2 separate regions of the Homo sapiens genome follow, and region 2 is linked to region 1. A link means that fine-mapping ties the variant in region 1 to the expression of a gene that starts in the linked region. Tissue or cell type: whole blood. Region 1 holds a variant in brackets; the other region holds the start of a gene. All regions are shown on one strand. Distances are between the middles of the regions.

What was found. PIP is the estimated chance that this variant, and not a neighbour inherited with it, causes the effect.
Region 2: PDCD1LG2 starts here. The variant in region 1 is fine-mapped to the expression of PDCD1LG2 in whole blood (TOPMed, PIP above 0.99).

Annotation. Positions count from the first base shown.
Region 1 is chr9:5,462,764-5,466,763 of GRCh38, forward strand. CD274 (CD274 molecule) reads left to right here. Exons shown (of 7, transcript NM_014143.4): 4 at 71-358; 5 at 2,736-2,843. The region is part of intron 2 of INCR1 (interferon stimulated noncoding RNA 1); the gene reads right to left. Among named protein-coding and RNA genes, the nearest start is that of CD274, 14 kb to the left of the region's middle. The variant C/A (reference allele first, on the strand shown) is at 2,367.
Region 2 is chr9:5,505,914-5,513,748 of GRCh38, forward strand. PDCD1LG2 (programmed cell death 1 ligand 2) reads left to right here and starts at 4,618. Exons shown (of 7, transcript NM_025239.4): 1 at 4,618-4,890. All of the region lies in intron 2 of INCR1 (interferon stimulated noncoding RNA 1), which reads right to left. RefSeq lists enhancers at 3,166-4,365, 4,307-4,386, 4,447-4,506, 4,667-4,716.

The sequences.
Region 1 (4,000 bases):
GACAGCATCAAGCTATGTACGTAGTTCTGTGCTCAGCAAAAGCCCTGACTTCTTTTTGTTTATGTCCTAGCCCCATACAACAAAATCAACCAAAGAATTTTGGTTGTGGATCCAGTCACCTCTGAACATGAACTGACATGTCAGGCTGAGGGCTACCCCAAGGCCGAAGTCATCTGGACAAGCAGTGACCATCAAGTCCTGAGTGGTAAGACCACCACCACCAATTCCAAGAGAGAGGAGAAGCTTTTCAATGTGACCAGCACACTGAGAATCAACACAACAACTAATGAGATTTTCTACTGCACTTTTAGGAGATTAGATCCTGAGGAAAACCATACAGCTGAATTGGTCATCCCAGGTAATATTCTGAATGTGTCCATTAAAATATGTCTAACACTGTCCCCTAGCACCTAGCATGATGTCTGCCTATCATAGTCATTCAGTGATTGTTGAATAAATGAATGAATGAATAACACTATGTTTACAAAATATATCCTAATTCCTCACCTCCATTCATCCAAACCATATTGTTACTTAATAAACATTCAGCAGATATTTATGGAATATACCTTTTGTTCCATGCATTGTAGTACTCATTGGATACACATAGAATAATAAGACTCAGTTCACACTCTTCAGGAAACAGATAAAAAACTAAGAAACAAACAAAAAACAGGCAATCCAACACCATGTGGGAAATGCTTTCATAGCCGGGAAACCTGGGGAATACCTGAGAGGAATACTCAATTCAGGCCTTGTTTCAGGAATCCAAATCCTGGCACATCAGAGCTGCTTCCCTCTTTCCAGGGTGGCAGGAAATAAATGGAACATATTTTTCTATCTTATGCCAAACATGAGGGACCCTTTCTCCCCGGTGCCTCTCCCAAGGTAGTCTACAATATTTCAACTCTAGCAGTCTGCTTAGTGCATAGAACATGAGGCTGTGTGTCCCTGGGCAAATTACTAGACTTCTGTGTGCTTCACTTTCCCTGTAGGATTATAATCTACTGAGCAAGCTTATTGTAAGGGTCAGATTAGCAACAGTGTATGAAAATGATTTGAGACCATTGCCTGCACAAATTCAACTATTTTTTTTTATCTCACTACTCTACAGAAGTAGGTAGGGTGGGAGACAGAGTCTGATGAGAGGCTCAGAATGTGAAAGAAAGTGAGGCGAGTGAGCATGATATTTAATATAAACACAAAGATATTCTGAGAAGAGCTGCTCACTGCCCCCTCCCCCAATACATGTTGATAGGAAAATGCCACGTACTTCAGCAAAAACAACTGAAAAATTAGATAGAAAAGTCAATCAATAGGAAAAGATAATCCAGGACGGTGTTGTGAACAGAAAGAGGGGGAAAAAACTTTAGAAAATGATGGGGATGCTCTTACTGGGGTACGAGTCCTCAGGTATTGAACTGGCTTTCAGTAAAAGCTAGATTAGTGGGTTCCTGCCATTTACAAGCTGTTTTATGACAACTTACTTGTTGGGTGGCCTACAGTAACTCACCTAACTGCACTGAGTCTGTTTCCTCATCTGTAAATTGGGGATTTTTTTTTAAATACCTGGCATGCCTAACTCATAAAGTTGTTCTGAAACTGAAATAAAACATACGTGAACAGGCATTGTAAACTGTAAGTTACGGAAAAAGCTGGCTGTTGTTGTGTCTTTAAAGTTTCACCTGGGTAGTCAAAGATGGATCATGGGTCTCAGTGGAGAGCTGAGCCAGGCAGGAGCTGACTAAGGGTGAGAGGTGGGAGTTAGCAGCCTCTGAACATCTGTGTACCATGGGACCCCCTTTCCTCCTGCATGGTACCCCAGACAAGGAGCCTAGTAAGAGATACTAATGGCTTGTTGTCCAGAGATGTTCAAACTGCAGAGAAAGATAAGACAACAAGCATTGGCCTCCAATCATGATGACAGATAGGAGGAGGTGGGAGCTCCTTAGCAGTGCTGGTTGGCCTTCCATGTTCTACTGTGGGCCATCTCTGCCATGTACTGTAGGCTACTAGCTTCTATATTAAAGAATGCAAGAGGGGCCAGGAGCGGAGGCTCATGCCTGTAATCTCAGCACTTTGGGAGGCCAAGGTGGGCAGATCACTTGAGGTCAGGAGTTTGTGACCAGCCTGGCCAACATGGTGAAACTCTGCCTTTACTAAAAATATAAAAATTAGCTGGGTGTGGTGGTGTGCACCTGTAATCCCAGCTACTCGGGAGACTGAGGCACAAGAATTGCTTGAACCTGGGAGGCGGAAGTTGCAGTGAGCCCAGATTGCGCCACTGCACTCCACCCTGGGCAACAGAGAAAGACTCTGCCTCAAAAAAAAAAAAAAAAAGCAAGAGGAAGTGAAATAATCAAGGC[C/A]GCCATTTAATAGTGAGCAGCCACTCCATGTGGTACTGTGCAAGCACATTATAAATATTAGCCTCACAAGAAATGTATTAGCATTTGTATTTTGTACACTGGTTAAGTATCTTGCCCAAGACCTCAAAACTGGTTAAGGGCAGCAGAATTTAGCCCCAGCACCACCTTTTCAAAGCCTGGGCTTCTCACACTTCTCCATGCTGTTCCCATTTTAACACAGGTATCTCGCCATTCCAGCCACTCAAACTTTGGCATTTAAGAAAATTATCCTAAAGCTAAACTAAACTTCAAGGATGACCATTCTCCTGACCCCTTCCCATCAAAATTTTATCTTTAGTCAGTTTGTTTTCGTTTTGTTTTGTTTTTCAGAACTACCTCTGGCACATCCTCCAAATGAAAGGACTCACTTGGTAATTCTGGGAGCCATCTTATTATGCCTTGGTGTAGCACTGACATTCATCTTCCGTTTAAGAAAAGGTAGTATTTCCTTAATTGCAGTGGTCTCCACTGGGGGTGAGGAAGGGGTGAGAATTGGATCATGGCTGCAAGGAAACCCGACTTAACCTCTGCAAGGTGGTGCAAAGGCATTCCACTGTTCAACAGCAATTATATTGAAGCTGAGTGGGATCACTGGGTGAAGATGAAGCGTAAGGGGTGAGGGGCAGGAGAATGGGTATGGATGGAGGTAGAAGATGCAGTGTCATACAGTTTTTTTCTATCATGAAAATAACCACAGACTTACAGAAGAGAAAGAGCTAAAATGCCCGTCATTTTCAGTTGCATTTTAGTCTTGCATTAGTTGCAACCAGCTGGTTTCTGGGTACCCTAAGTAATAAAAATAGTTCCTCTGTAGAACTGTAGTATGTTTACCATAGAGTATTTTGCAAAATTTTTGGTAGAGGATGTTACATAATTTGCATGTGTTCATTTCTCCATTTACCTGTGGGAACAATTAAAATCCAGGAAAATGAGTATATTCAAATAATTTCCTCCCATTTAAGATGAGTCAGAGTAAATAATTCCTCCAATACTTAGAGAAGTATACCAAGAGATCCAGTGATGGTATAGAGTTGTCTGATGTTAAATAGGGAAGTAGAATATGGAAGGGGATTCCAATAGTCGTTGAAAAATTCCCCATAACCCCTTACATGGGGGAAAGTAGTGTTAACTGAGAGAGTAGAGATAAGCTGTTTCCAAAAATTATATTCTTAACAGGACTGAGATAGCCAGAATATAAGGATCAAGTTTCAATGACAGTAAGATCCTGAGATGGAGTTGATTTGCACAAAGAAATAATTGTTGCCAGCATGCATTTTGAATATTTCTCTGGAAAAAAAGATTAGTTGGCAGTAGAAATGGATAGAAATCAATAGATATTAAAATACCTCAGAATTTGGTTCATCTCTGGGAAAAGATGAAAAATAAAAGTGTATACTCCTCAAGAACATCTAGGATCAAAAGCATGTGCCCTACACTATTGAATTAATTAACCTCATAAGTTGGGACCTGTGGAATAAGGATGTCCACCAGACTTCCTAGGGATTACAAATGTTTCACAGAACTTGAAATTTAAACTTGGGTCACTGTATGGGATGTAGAGCTGTGCTATATGGAAATAAAAATGATTTCTTTTT
Region 2 (7,835 bases), 45 kb after region 1:
AAAGACAAAAACCACATGATTATCTCAATAGATGTAGAAAGGTTTTTTATAAAATTCAACATTTCTTTATGTTAAAAATGCTCAACAAACTAGGTATTGAAAGAACATGCCTCAAAATAAGAGCCAACTATGACGAACTCACAGCCAACATCATACTGAATAGGCAAAGGCTGGAAGCATTCCCCTTGAAAACCAGCACAAGACAAAAATGCCCTCTCTCACCACTCCTATTCAACATAGTATTGGAAGTCCTGGCCAGAGCACTCAGGCAAGAGAAAGAAAGAAAAGGCATCCAAATAGGAAGAAGGGAAGTTAAACAATCCCTGTTTGCAGATGACATGATTCTATATCTAGAAAACCCCTAGTCTCAGCCCAAATGCTCCTTAAGCTGATAAACAACTTCAGCAAAGTTTCAGGATACAAAATAAATGTACAAAAATCACTAGCATTCCTATACACCAGCAACAGCGAAGCCGAGAGCCAAATCAGGAACACAATTGCACTTGCAATTTCCACAAAAAAAAAAAAAATACCTACGAATACAGCTAAACAGGGAGGTGAAAGAGCTCTACAATGAGAATTACAAAATACTGCTAGAAGAAATTAGAGATTACACAAACAAATGGGAAAACATTCCATGCTCATGGATAGGAAGAATCAATATCATTAAAACGACCAAAGCGGTTTATAGATTCAATGCTGTTTCCACCAAACTACCAGTGATATTCTTCACTGAACTAGAAAAAAATATTTTAAAATTTATATGGAACCAACAAAGAGCCCAAATAGCCAAGGCAATCAAAGCAAAAAGAACAAAGCCAGAGGCATCATCCTACCAGACTTCAAACTATACTACAAGGGTACAGTAACCAAAACACCATGGTTCTGGTACAAAAACAGACACATAGACCAATGGAACAGAATAGAGAACCCAGAAATAAGGCTGCACACCTACAATTATCTGATCTTTGACAAAGCTGACAAAAACAAGCAATGGAGAAAGGACTTCCTACTCAATAAATGGGGCTGGGATAACTGGCTAGCCATATACAGAAGATGGAAACTAGACTCCTTCCTTACACCAGATACAGAAATCAACTTAAGATGGATTAACAACTTAAATGTAAAACCTAAAACTATAAAAAACCCTGGAAGACAATATAGGCAATACCATTCTGGACATAGAAGTGAGTGAAGATTTCATGACAAAGACACCAAAAGCAATTGCAACAAAAGCAAAAATTGACAAATGGGATCTAATTAAACTAAAGAGCTTCTACACAGCAACAGAAACTATCAACAAAGTAAACACACAACCTACAGAATGGGAGAAAAGTTTTGCAAACTATGCATCTGACAAAGGTCTAATATCCAGTATCTATAAGGAACTTAAACAAATTTACAAGAAGAAAACAAACAACCCAATTAAAAAGTGGGCAAAGGACATGAACAGGCGTTTTTCAAAAGAAGACATACACATGGCCAACAAGCATATAAAAAAGCTCAATATTACTTATCATTAAAGAAATGCAAATCCAAATCACAATGAGAGATCCTCTCACACCAGTCAGAATGGCTATTATTAAAAAGTTAATAAGTTGGCCGGGTGCGGTGGCTCACACCTGTAATCCCAGCACTTTGGAAGGCTGAGGCAGGTAGATCACAAGGTCAGGAGATCCAGACCATCCAGGCTAACATGGTGAAACCCCGTCTCTGCTAAAAATACAAAAAAATTAGCCGGGCGTGGTGGCGGGCGCCTGTAGTCCCAGCTACTCAGGAGGCTGAGGCAGGAGAATGGCATGAACCCAGGAGGTGGAGCTTGCAGTGAGCTGAGATCTCACCACTGTACTCCAGCCTGGAAGACAGAGTGAGACTCCATCTCAAAAAAAAAAAGTTAATAAACAACATGCTGACAAGGTTATGGAGAAAAGGGAATGCTTATACACTATTGGTGGAGTGTAAATTAGTTCAACCATTATGGAAAGCAGTGTGGCAATTCCTCAAAGAGCTAAAAACAGAACTACCATTCAATCCAGCAATCCCATTACTGGGTATATACCCAAAGAAATGTAAATCATTCTATCACAAAGACACATGCACACACATGTTCATCATAGCACTATTCACAATAGCAAAGACATGGAATCAACCTAAATGCCCATCAACGACAGACTGGATAAAGAAAATGTGGTACATATACACCAAGGAATACTATAGAGCCGTAAAAAAGAGCATGTCCTTTGCGGGAACATGGATGGAGCTGGAAGTCATTATGCTTAGCAAATTAATGCAGGAACAGAAAACCAAATACCACATGTGTTCACATATAAGTGGGAGCTAAGTGATAAGAACACATGGACACAAAGAGGGGAACAACACAAACTGGAGCCTAGCTGAGGGTGGAGGCCCCAGGGAGGAGGGAGATGAGCAAAAAAAAAAAAAAAAAAAAAAAAAAAAAAAAAAAAAATGACTGGGTTCTAGGCTTAGTATCTAGGGGACAAAATAATCTGTATGACAAACCTCCATGACACGAGTTTACCTATGTAAAATAAAAGTTTAACAAAAAACTAAAAAAGTTACCTATGTAAAACAAAAGTTTAACAAAAAACTAAAAAAAGTTACCTCCACCCAGAAATGCCTTTATTAACACTTTGGTTTGTAACCCTCCATTATTTTCTCTAGACATATAGATTTATGAGGCAGGCTAATGTGCTGAGACACTAGCTTGAGTTTCATTTGGCCTTGCTGTGAATATACCTGGGCCTTCCTTTGCTTCAGGATGCCCTAAACTGTGGCAAAGCAGAGCTGAACTGCCCAAAGGAAAGTGTGAAGAGGAGAGGCAGGCCAAGCCTGGAGAAAGGCTACCCAAGAGAGAGGAAAGGAAACTGTGGTGAGTGCACCTCACTCCTAAAGAAGGACAGGAACTCTGGTAGGTGAGGTGTGTTTTCCATAGATACTAAAACTCAAAGCCACACAGGGGACATATGTCCATTCCTCAGCCAGTCACTGTGGCCAGGAACAGAGGGTCAGGTAAGAGAATGGCAACTCCTAAGGAAACCACATGCCTGGAGCCGTGGGTGTAGAAGCAGATCCCCAGAGGAAGCACGGGTCCCACAGACACAGTCCCAACTCTTGCCGTCTAGGCAGCCACTCCCATCTGTAGGTACTACACAGCTTCGTAGTACTTCTTAAAGTACTTCTTGTTCAAGCGATGGGACGAAAAGAGGATGCAGGACAAGGAGGAGGAAAGGAGATCCTTGCTTTTGTAGAAGAAACAAGGAGGCAGGGAAGGCTTAGAGGACAGGCAAGGAGAGATGTTTTCTTAAAAACATCCTCTGTCTGAGTGTTCAGCCCCACATCTCTGCTGGTCCTACCCCTATAAGCACAAGGAAAAGGGCGGGAGGCAGCAGGAGAAGGATTGATCATTCAGGCCTATATTCAAGTTTGCCTTTTCTTGCCATGTGGTTTTAATCTCACCAATCACAAGCCTGAAGGTATAGTGGGGCCACTGAGGTCCGAGTTCAAATTCAGCCATGCAACTAAGGAAACATTGTTTGATCTTGGTCCTGTTTTCTCATGTGTAAAATGGGTCTAACTCTAAACCACACATTGCACTGAGAATGAAATGAGGCACTATGAAATGAAGTGAGGTTAGTTGAATAATGTTCCCCCCAAATTCATGTCTACTGAGGACCTCAGAATGTGACTATATTTGGAAGTAGGGTCTACGCAGATGTAGTCTAAATGAGGTCATACTGCATTAGGGTGGGCACTAATCAAACGGATGGTATCCTCATAAGAGGAGAGGAATGTAGAGATACACACAGAAAAGAATGTCATTTGAAGATGGAGGCAGAGATTGGAGTGATACAACTATAAGTCAGGGAATGCCAAGGACTTGAGGTCATGTGTTACAGAAGCCCTAGGAAATGAGTCAATTTCCTGGCACAGCACTAAGACATGCTGGTATTCTTCATTCCATCCCTTTCCCCTATTCCTAAATGTGCTCCAGGGACAATGGGGAAGCTGGAGCACATATAAGAATAGGGGAAAGAGAGGGAATAAAAGGGTATTAAAAACTCTCAAGGTATGTTAAAAAAAAGACTCTCAACAAACCAGGTATTGAAGGAACATACCTCAAAATAATAAGAGCCATCTATGATGAACCCACAGCCAACATCACACTGAATAGGCAAAAGCTGGAAGGATGCCCCTTGAAAACCGGCACAAGACAAGGCTGCCTTCTCTCACCACTCCTATTCACCATACTATTGGAAGTCCTGGCCAGAGCAATCAGGCAAGAGAAAGAAAGAAAAGGCATCCAAGAAGGAAGAGAGGAAGTCAAACTACCCATGTTTGCAGATGACATAATTTTATATCTAGAAAATCCCACAGTCTCAGCCCAAAAGCTCCTTAAGCTGATAAACTTCAGAAAGTTTCAGGATCCCACATGAACATACAAAAATCACTAGTATTCCTAAACACCAACCATAGCTAAGCCAAGAGCCAAATCAGGAATGCAATCCCATTCACAGACAAACTGCTAAAAGCAAAACCAAAACTTTCCAAATAAGCCAGGCTTTCGTCAGTTCCTCAGAACTAGTTCTGGTTTGACTCACTCTCATGTTACGGCAAACCTTAAGCTGAATGAACAACTTTTCTTCTCTTGAATATATCTTAACGCCAAATTTTGAGTGCTTTTTTGTTACCCATCCTCATATGTCCCAGCTAGAAAGAATCCTGGGTTGGAGCTACTGCATGTTGATTGTTTTGTTTTTCCTTTTGGCTGTTCATTTTGGTGGCTACTATAAGGAAATCTAACACAAACAGCAACTGTTTTTTGTTGTTTACTTTTGCATCTTTACTTGTGGAGCTGTGGCAAGTCCTCATGTGAGTAACGAGTGGGTTGAGATACTCTCATACTATTATGTTGTGGACCATGATGAGGCTGCCAGGGTGGGGGAAGGGTGGCCTACCTTCTCTCCACACCATTTGAGGCAAGAGACATTCTGCCTCAGAAATTGTGCTGAGGGGCACAAATAAGCTAATGTCCTCCTGCCCCAGATTTCTCTCACTTGTTCCTATGCATATTGTTCTTGTTGCTCAGTTTTATAAGGTGAGATATTTTCTGCACCAAATATGTGCACTGTAAAATAATATAACTATTCTTAAGATTGTCTCTCAGCTTAGAGTTTTCGGAGGCTTAATGGTGAAGAACTTAAAAATCTGTTTTCCTATGACTGACATCTGTTTGTGATTATCCATTTAGCAGACGGTGATCCCTCCAGGCTGGCCTTTGTTTACAAGCTATGCCTAAGAGGCAGCTGTTGGTGGAGGGGGAACAAAAACAAAAAACCCAAAACTATTATCTTAATAACTTATAGAGGTAATCATTATTGAACAAAAGCATGATTTGGGGACTATGGAAAGGCTTATTCTTTCCATATAAAATGATCAGCGAAAAGGTAGAAAAATTAAACAGAACTGAAATAATTGCTATTGATTGCTCACCGCCTGGATGCACTGAGTAGAAGAGCAAAGGCAATGGGTTCATGTGGAGGGGATGGAGGTGGAGAGGCTAAGCCTGAGTGAGATTACCAACTAATCAGGACTTTTAACCCAAAAATACTATGGCTCTGAGGGGCAGGGAATGAGAGACCTAAATTGACAAAATGCAGAGTAAAAATATTCAGTGTGAGCAGTAATGAGACAGTTGTATCAGGGTCAAATACGGAGTTGGCCTGGATGTCCTCCAAGCTCCTTTCCAAGCCTAAGATTCTGTGAGTGGATGAACAATCCTGGTCCTGCTGCTCTTGCCACTGGAACCTGATCTATTTGCCTTCATTATTTGAGGTCTCCCCATCATCAGGCTCTTTGTTGTCTGCTGCTTCAGGGTGTCTTCTCCCCAGATTTCTCCTGTTGGTGAGCTTTTCCATTGAACTGGAGCTCCTCACAGGCAAGAAGCACACCTTTAAGGTTCTCTGAGTCCCAAGTTCCTAGTGCAGTACCTGGCAATACACATAGGTGCTTAGTGGGTGCTTGCCGAATTGTTGAATGGATTTATTTGATGAAATGTCAGGAGAATCACCAGAAATGAAATGTTCGTGTAATGGACAGGGGGAAGTTTGAGGTTGATTTGAAAAAGGAGATGGTAGAGACAGTATTATGGGTCATGCTTCAGAGTTTATTTGCTTTACAATACATTGGACAGCAACCAGTAGATTGTTGTGTGTCATTTTAATTCCACATGCTAATGTCCAAATATGTCATATGTCTTAATTGTTGCATACGTGGGTTACTCTGTAAAGGGGCAACTGTAGTATCACCTCCTCATGCCACACCCTGCTCCACTGTAGCTGGGCTCGATAACCTTCAAATCAACTCACAGAATTCCAGGACAGACAAGAGCATCTGAAAGGTTATCTAGCCCCAGTCACCTCTGATGCCTTCCAGCTGTCTCTAACACACCTGTGGGCTGACTTCCAGTTCTTAGTCTTCACGGCTCCCTATGATGAACTGCCCCTGCTTTGAGGGATTTTCCTCCATTGCCTCAGAAGTACTGCCCTGGGGGAGCTTCTGATGCTCTTCTGACCACCTTGTCTCTGCCTTTTTCACTAGTCCTCTGTTCCTGCTCTCCAAATTTTGGGACGTTCCTGAGTTCAGATCTTTTCTTTATAATCTTTCTTTTATATTCTCCCCATCAGATGGTTCATTCATTCCTCAATATTAACTAACATTTCCATATTAGAAATAACTTCCTTATCTTTAGCCCTAAATTTTGTCCCAAACTCTGGACCTACAATTTTTTGGAATGCTTATGCCTTGCCCAGACTAAAACCAAACTTACTGTCTTCCCTCTAAAATCAGCTCCCCATCTTCTATTTCTCCCTGCCACCCTTCCTCCCCCATGGCTCCAATATTGTCTTGCCAGTCTGGTCTTAAAACCACAGTCAATCTTGTTGCTTTTCTCTTTGTCTCTTGTGCATGGCTGATCAGCAGTCAATTGTTTTGTCAATTGTCTTATATGTTTCTTCTTCCTCTTCCTTGCTTCCTTTTTCTGACCTGAAGTTAGGGCCTTGTTACCAAACATCTAGATGAATACAGTGACCCCCTAATTGAGAGGCTGTCTACCAATTCCACCCACCCTCAATTCTATACTCAAAAAAAAAATTAGATGTAATCTTTTTCAGATACTCCTTTGGTATTGTCACTTAGTTTTTGAGTGACTGCCACTATTTCCCGATTGGCAGCTCTGCCTGGCATTAAGCTCTTGACATTCTCAACCTAAGTGTCCAGCCAAGTTACTCTGTTCATTGTCCCCTCAACACGCCTGTGCATTTGCACCTCTGAGACTGCTTCTGAGTCAGCTATGCACTGCCCTTTAGAATAGCTTCAACCCCAAATCCTACCAGTGCTTCAAAGGCCCAGTTCAAATCCTACCCCTCTGGGAAGTCTCCCTTCCTTTAGTCAACTTCTAGGGCTTTTGCAATTTTATCACTTGTTTTACATCAGTTTTACTATTTTTCATGTGTGAGAGTTTTAACCTTCCAATTATGGTACAATGTCTTTAAGGGCAAGGGCCCTTTCTTAGAGGAAACCCTCTATGAATTCTCCAATGATAAATTATTCTATGAATTCTCACAACTTTCTAATATAAAGGCTTATAAAAAGTGGGAACTCACTGTTTATTGCTTAAAAAATTGAGATTTAATTTGAACTTAAATGCTCTATTAAATTGAGTAGAATAGCATCTTAAGGCTACTGGTAGTCTATCTATGCCACAGATGGTTTAGAGATCAAATAATTACTCATATACCTATGACAGCAGAGTACTG